Linked DNA regions of Homo sapiens: region 1 is linked to region 2. Evidence: fine-mapped expression QTL. A gene starts in region 2. The other region holds a variant in brackets. All regions are shown on one strand. Distances are from middle to middle.

Region 1 (2,924 bases), 54 kb before region 2:
GCCGCACATGAACATCTAGACCATTGTTGATAGCATTTCCCACATTACTTTCCCATTTCCACCATGACAGATACAAAGATTACCTCCAAGTCCTAGCCTATAAATGTGTTGTCATAAATATTCTTGAATGTGTCCCTTCATGAAACTGGATGATCATTTCTCTGTGAATATTTGTTTAGTCTCACATAAGACAACCTTAACAATTCTACTTACCATTATTGAAAAACAATTTAAACAAAAATATTTCACTGTAATAAAATAGTTGAAATATGACCTCTATAATCTAACGTAAGACAGGAAGAAGGAAGCAAAGAAAAAATTTAAGTAAAAGAATTTAAATGGTTGAGTTTAAAAAGAAAAAATATGTATTTCAAATAAGGAAGATAATAGAAGAACGTTCAGTATATACGTGAGTCTGGAGAGTACAAGACAGGAAAGAGTATGGAGACAAGAGGCTGAATTACAGGAATGCCCAGTTCCCTTGATTTTTAGTCTTTCTGGGATGTGCATAGTGGGAAGGAAGGAAGATGAAGATTGGCAAGATTCCTGGCTGACTCCTGGAGGTGATTTTGTAACTTAAGCATGAATATTGTCTCCTGCCCTCATGTATTTGGCTCACCTACATAATCATGTACTGTGATTTACTCTCGCAACAGCCACCCCGTGACTAGGTATGTCAGCTGCCAAGACTCCTGTACTTCTCTTCTGGGGACCCAAGACCTACTTGGGCTTCTTTCCCTTCTCTACCTTAGCAGTGATTGGTCTCAGGACATAATGTTTATGTCATGCCTTCTGAGTTTAGGAATATATTCTGTCTCCTAACACAGGCACACTTGCTGTACTGAATACACAGGCAAATGAACACAAAGTCGAATCACTGTTTTATCTACAAATCCTGCTAATCCTGGATCACATACACAAAAAAAGACTGAGTATTCTTTTGAGTAAATTTCAATAGTGTCATGAGTTGGAGCAAGTCAAGGTCCTGTGGGGTGTTTGACTTAAATTTAATGGTGAACAAAGCTTTGAACATTCTTCTTTTCCTTGTTTCTACTCTTCTTCTTTCATTTATTGTGACTTTTCAAATAACGGAGAAAATATCACTTAGATAACAAAGCCATGTATGGATGAAGAACACAACACTAAATGAATTTCTGAGATTATAACATCTATGATAATATATCAAAATTAGAATGGAGATTATCCCCATCACTCCTTATTCTTTGCATTGGTTAATAGTTCACATTCCCAAGTTTCACGTTGTATCTCTTGGGAAGAATGATGTGATTTTTTTCAAATCTCCCTGACAAGTACTCTCTTAACCTAATTCTACTTGGCCTGGTCTTGAAAGTGTTTCTATTGACACTTCTCTCTTTGCCAACTGACCCAAGTTCTAATGTTGGTAGAAGAAACAAAGCTTCGAAGTAGATATATCTTAATCATCAGAATCACATGTTCTGGGAAAAGAAGCTAATCTGTATACATAAAAATACAGCAAGGAGAAGTAGGACTTTGGACAAATCTTAGAAAACTTCTGAGACTCTGTTTCCTCATCCGTACAATGAGAATATTAAGGAAATGGTGTCTAAATGTCTTCCAGATCTGATCAGACCCTCTACTTCTTCCACTGCCCACTGCTCACTGTCCTCTTTGCATATATTTTCTTCTTCAGCAATCATAAATAAA[G/TAAAG]AAAAATTTGTGTATATAGATACACATGGATAGTTATTACATATGATGTTACTGAGTGTCCATTATATCCTAGGCATTTTACTTGTGTTGCCCCATTTAATCCTTATTTAATGCTGCAATGTATTATTAACCATATTTTATATATGAGAAATCATCTATAAAGGTTAAGCAATTTACATGAAACCTACAGTTAGTAAATGAGAAGCCTGGAGTCAAACTCTGGTTTATAAACTCCAAAATCTACACTCTTTACATTAAAATATATTGCCAATCACACAAATAAGTACAAACCGATGTGCAGACTAGAAAGACCAAAATTGTTCTCCTTCCAACTTTAGTACTATAGAAGATATGTTCAAGTGTTTCTGCTTTTTGGGTGGTATGCTTGTAAATTGCAAATACCAAAAAGATCTAATCTAGGGTCTTAACATTTACAGGATGAAAAAGAGAGGTGGTGACAGTGGAGAGAGAGAAAGAGAGGGAGGGAAGGAAACGCCAAACTGAGTCAATAAAGGAGTTCAGCGGAGAGGAAAATTATTCTGAACTGGGACTTTTCTGGGTTGCTTCACAAACATGGTAGAACTTGCAGTTCTAGAGACCTAGAGAAGAAATGCCTTCGTCAGTGCAGAACAAGGCTTTGTATGTATTTAGGGTACTTGTAACTACAAATAACAGATAACATACAATTCAACTTGGCATAAATAATAAGGAAAATTTATTATCCTATCTAACAAGAACTCTCAAGGTAAGATGGCTTCAGGATTGGATCACTTCATGCTTTACATCACCAGGGATCCATATATATATATATATATATATATTTTCATCCTTTTGCTTTGCCCTCCTACTCTTAGTTCTCCTCATAGTTGCAGGAAAGCTACCGCAGTTCATGATATCAAATGCAGGCATAACTACATCGAGTAGGGACTACTTCCCATGAATTTATTTTTAAGAATAAAAATCTATTTCCTATAGTCCCCTGGCATACTATTCTTCATCTTTCATTGGCTAGAATTAAGAAATATGCCCGTGCCTAAACCAATCACTGGCAGGACAATGAGGCCACCACGATGCATTTAAGCCAATCAGGACTGACCGCTTGAACTGGGAATAGAGCCAGCCTTGTCTGAATCCCACAGGGAAGTGATGGATACTCCTGCAGAAGCAGATCTCTGCCCCTGGACAGATGGGGAAAGGCTACTGGGAAGGCAGTTAGTGTCTGCTGCAGTGCACACAAA
Region 2 (2,924 bases):
TCACCATTCAAATGACCAACCATTTGAAATACAGTAAAGAATCAGGCTTCTGAGCTAATACTTTTAGAAGAGCTAGAGTATTAAACTCTGGGCATTTTCACCCATTAATCATTGTTCAATAAATGTTTAAGTGCCTACCTACCATGTGCCAGACACCATTCAAAGTTCTGTGGATATAACAGACAAAAACCCTGCCATCATGTAGCCTGCATTCTAATGGAGGAGAAAGACAATAAACACATGAGTAAATTATAAATAAAGTGATTAGTACTATATCTTTACCTTAGAGGATACCCAACAAACAGTTACTAACTTAAAAGAAAAGAAAAACTCACCTGTAGTATCAGCAGAAATTTTATTCAAGCTTAGTTCATCAGTAAGGTCTTCATTTTTAAACTTATTTTTAATGTCTCTCACTTTGTTCATTATGGAATCAATTGTCAATTCTCTGCCACTTAAATCCTCGGATTCCATTTCTAAGAAAAAAACTGAACAGTCATAACTCCTACTTTAACTAGCATCAAAGAAAAAAATGCACTAGCTTTTTAGAACCCAGACGACTAAAGCATTCGTTTTGTGAACACATCTAAATGCAGCTATTATTAGGCTAGTATTAATGGAGGTAAGTGCACAACAACAAGGTACACATCTTTGTAATTTATTCACCAAGGTTTCATAGGCCAAGTATACTTTTTCCCCCAATATAACATCAATGACGTCACACTGTAGAAATCTGCAAATTTAGTGTCACTTAAAAAAAATATGATAGAGTGTTTGCTTGGATTTTGGTAGCGACATACACATAAAGATTGCTTGGATTCTGGTAGTGACATAGACATAAAGAATTCGTTTGGCAATGGGAATAACAATTCCTTTATTCGCCTGCTTTACTTGAGTAAATCTTCCAGTGCAAGTGCTTTCAAAGCAGAATATAAACATGATGGGGCTTTACTGATAATTAGGAAATCCGCAGATTTATTCTTGTGCATATCTAGCAGAATCACGATTTGCTACCTTAATCTAACACTAAGAAACTATTGTACTGGTACTGAGCACTTGCTTATCTGCATGGTGGTGGTGTTTGTTCAATAAAGTGTCTGCAGTCTTATTGTTAATCGTATCTTTGTGACTCTCAAACACCAACTCAGTGTCACTGATAACAATGCTGCCCCGTCTTCAGGTTTAACAATGAAAAAAAGTCATAAAGTTGCAGCAAGGTATCACTCCACCTCTTAAGTCAGGTTTGAAAGATAACTGTCAGATCACGGCCACCCGCTTCTTTCCCAGTTCTAACCCCCAAAACAAGAGAGACTGTCCTTTGGAAAACGATCTTGTGCGCAGGTACCCCACCACCCCTTCTTTCCAGCGTGGGCCACACCCACTTCTTACTTCCTCAACAAAACCTCCTGCATCACCCCACCGGCCAGACCCGCTGAGGCAGTGAGACATCCCCTCCCCCTCCAGCTCGTTTAGCCGCGTCGCATACCTGGCTCCGAGCTGCCCCCACCTCGCCCCACCCCTCACCGACCAGCGCTAACAATGAGCCCCTACACCGGCTGCGGCTGTTCCTCAGTGCGCCGGTGCACCGGTAAGACAGAACTTACCTACAGAAAGCTGCGCTGGGGAAATGAAAAGATGGAACCCAAACTCCTTTCCGCAAACACGTTTGAATTTCCCCGTCGCTATCACTACGGTCTCCTATTGGTCAATGCTAGCCACGTAGAAGCGACAGTCGTGATTGGTTCTTGTGCGACGGGGGCCGCCCCTCCTCCTGCGTCAGGCTAGGCCCGCCCCGGAAGAGCCTGCGGCCGCGACCCCACCCGTGCGGCGCCTGGGTTGGTAGGGTGCTGGCACTTTGCAGGCGTTCCCCGGACGCCCGTGGGCGGGCTTTCCTGGTCTTTCCAGTTTAACCAGGCCGAATTTTTGCCTGGGAGGTAGCCACTCCCGAGCAAACCTACCCAGTGAGAGGAATATAGGGGCAGGGACGGCTGCTCCTAGCATCAGGACCTAAAAGATGCACCTTGGGCCGGCCCTTTACTGACCCCACCGCCACCCTTCTCCTTCGTTTCCCGCGGTTCTCACAGCCTGGCTTAGAGAGGATGTGGCAAGAAAGGATCTTTCACTGAGCTACGTTCAGCCCTGCCGCCAGCTCAAGAATTTCAGTGCTTTTTATCCTTGAGCTTCTGCTTATGCCCTTCCATTATCCTTAAATGACTCCACGCTCTGTCTTCAAGCCAAGACCCTCCCCCTTGTCAAAATTCTGCGCAGAACTCAAGCGCCCATCGTGATTGCCCTGTCTGAAGTCGCCTTATCGGCCCCCCTCCCTCGAAGCCTGCCCCACTTAAGGGCTCAGGTGTCCTCAGGGGTAAAAACATCTCCCTAGTAATAATCTTCGCGGGTGCGAGGCTCTGCCGCTAAGTGGCTTTGTGGTCCAGGGCAACGGTTACTCCTCGTCTGCAAAACTAAAAGGGATGTGTCTGTTGTGCCAGCATTATGACATATATTCTGTGGTAGGACGGGTTGGTTTTGTGTATGTATAGGAAACTAACTGCAGCTGTCACTTGTTAACTCCAAAGCTATCCTTAGAACCCTCACATTCCCAGCTCTGGATAGCCACCCAGCTAGCGTGAGAGCCCTTCTCAATCACTTAATGCATCTTTCTGTGTCAGCTAGCTAGTATTTCTGCTTCAGCAGAGCAAAATGACTTGCTATACCATGGTTGGCTAATCACTTACCTTTGCACCATTGCATCTAATGCTTCTGCCTGGAAAGAGTTTATTATTCCTCCAATTCTCGTTGATCTGTTTGCGGCCTGATCACAAAGCTTGCATTTTCCTTAAAATACTGTTGCTGGATGACCTCACCCTAACACTTCTTTCTGTACTCTCGTTTGGTGGTCTCCTTCAGTCTTCTATTTTTAAATA

Evidence for each region. PIP is the estimated chance that this variant, and not a neighbour inherited with it, causes the effect.
Region 1: its variant is the best candidate, but not a certain one, in a credible set for the expression of TTK in whole blood (INTERVAL, PIP 0.80).

Annotation. Positions count from the first base shown.
Region 1 is chr6:80,057,816-80,060,739 of GRCh38, reverse strand. No RefSeq gene overlaps it. Among named protein-coding and RNA genes, the nearest start is that of BCKDHB, 47 kb to the left of the region's middle. The variant G/TAAAG (reference allele first, on the strand shown) is at 1,687.
Region 2 is chr6:80,003,394-80,006,317 of GRCh38, reverse strand. It overlaps TTK (TTK protein kinase), which reads right to left and starts at 1,669. Exons shown (of 22, transcript NM_003318.5): 1 at 1,605-1,669; 2 at 336-476. The coding sequence starts at 474. RefSeq lists enhancers at 2,068-2,187, 1,758-2,632.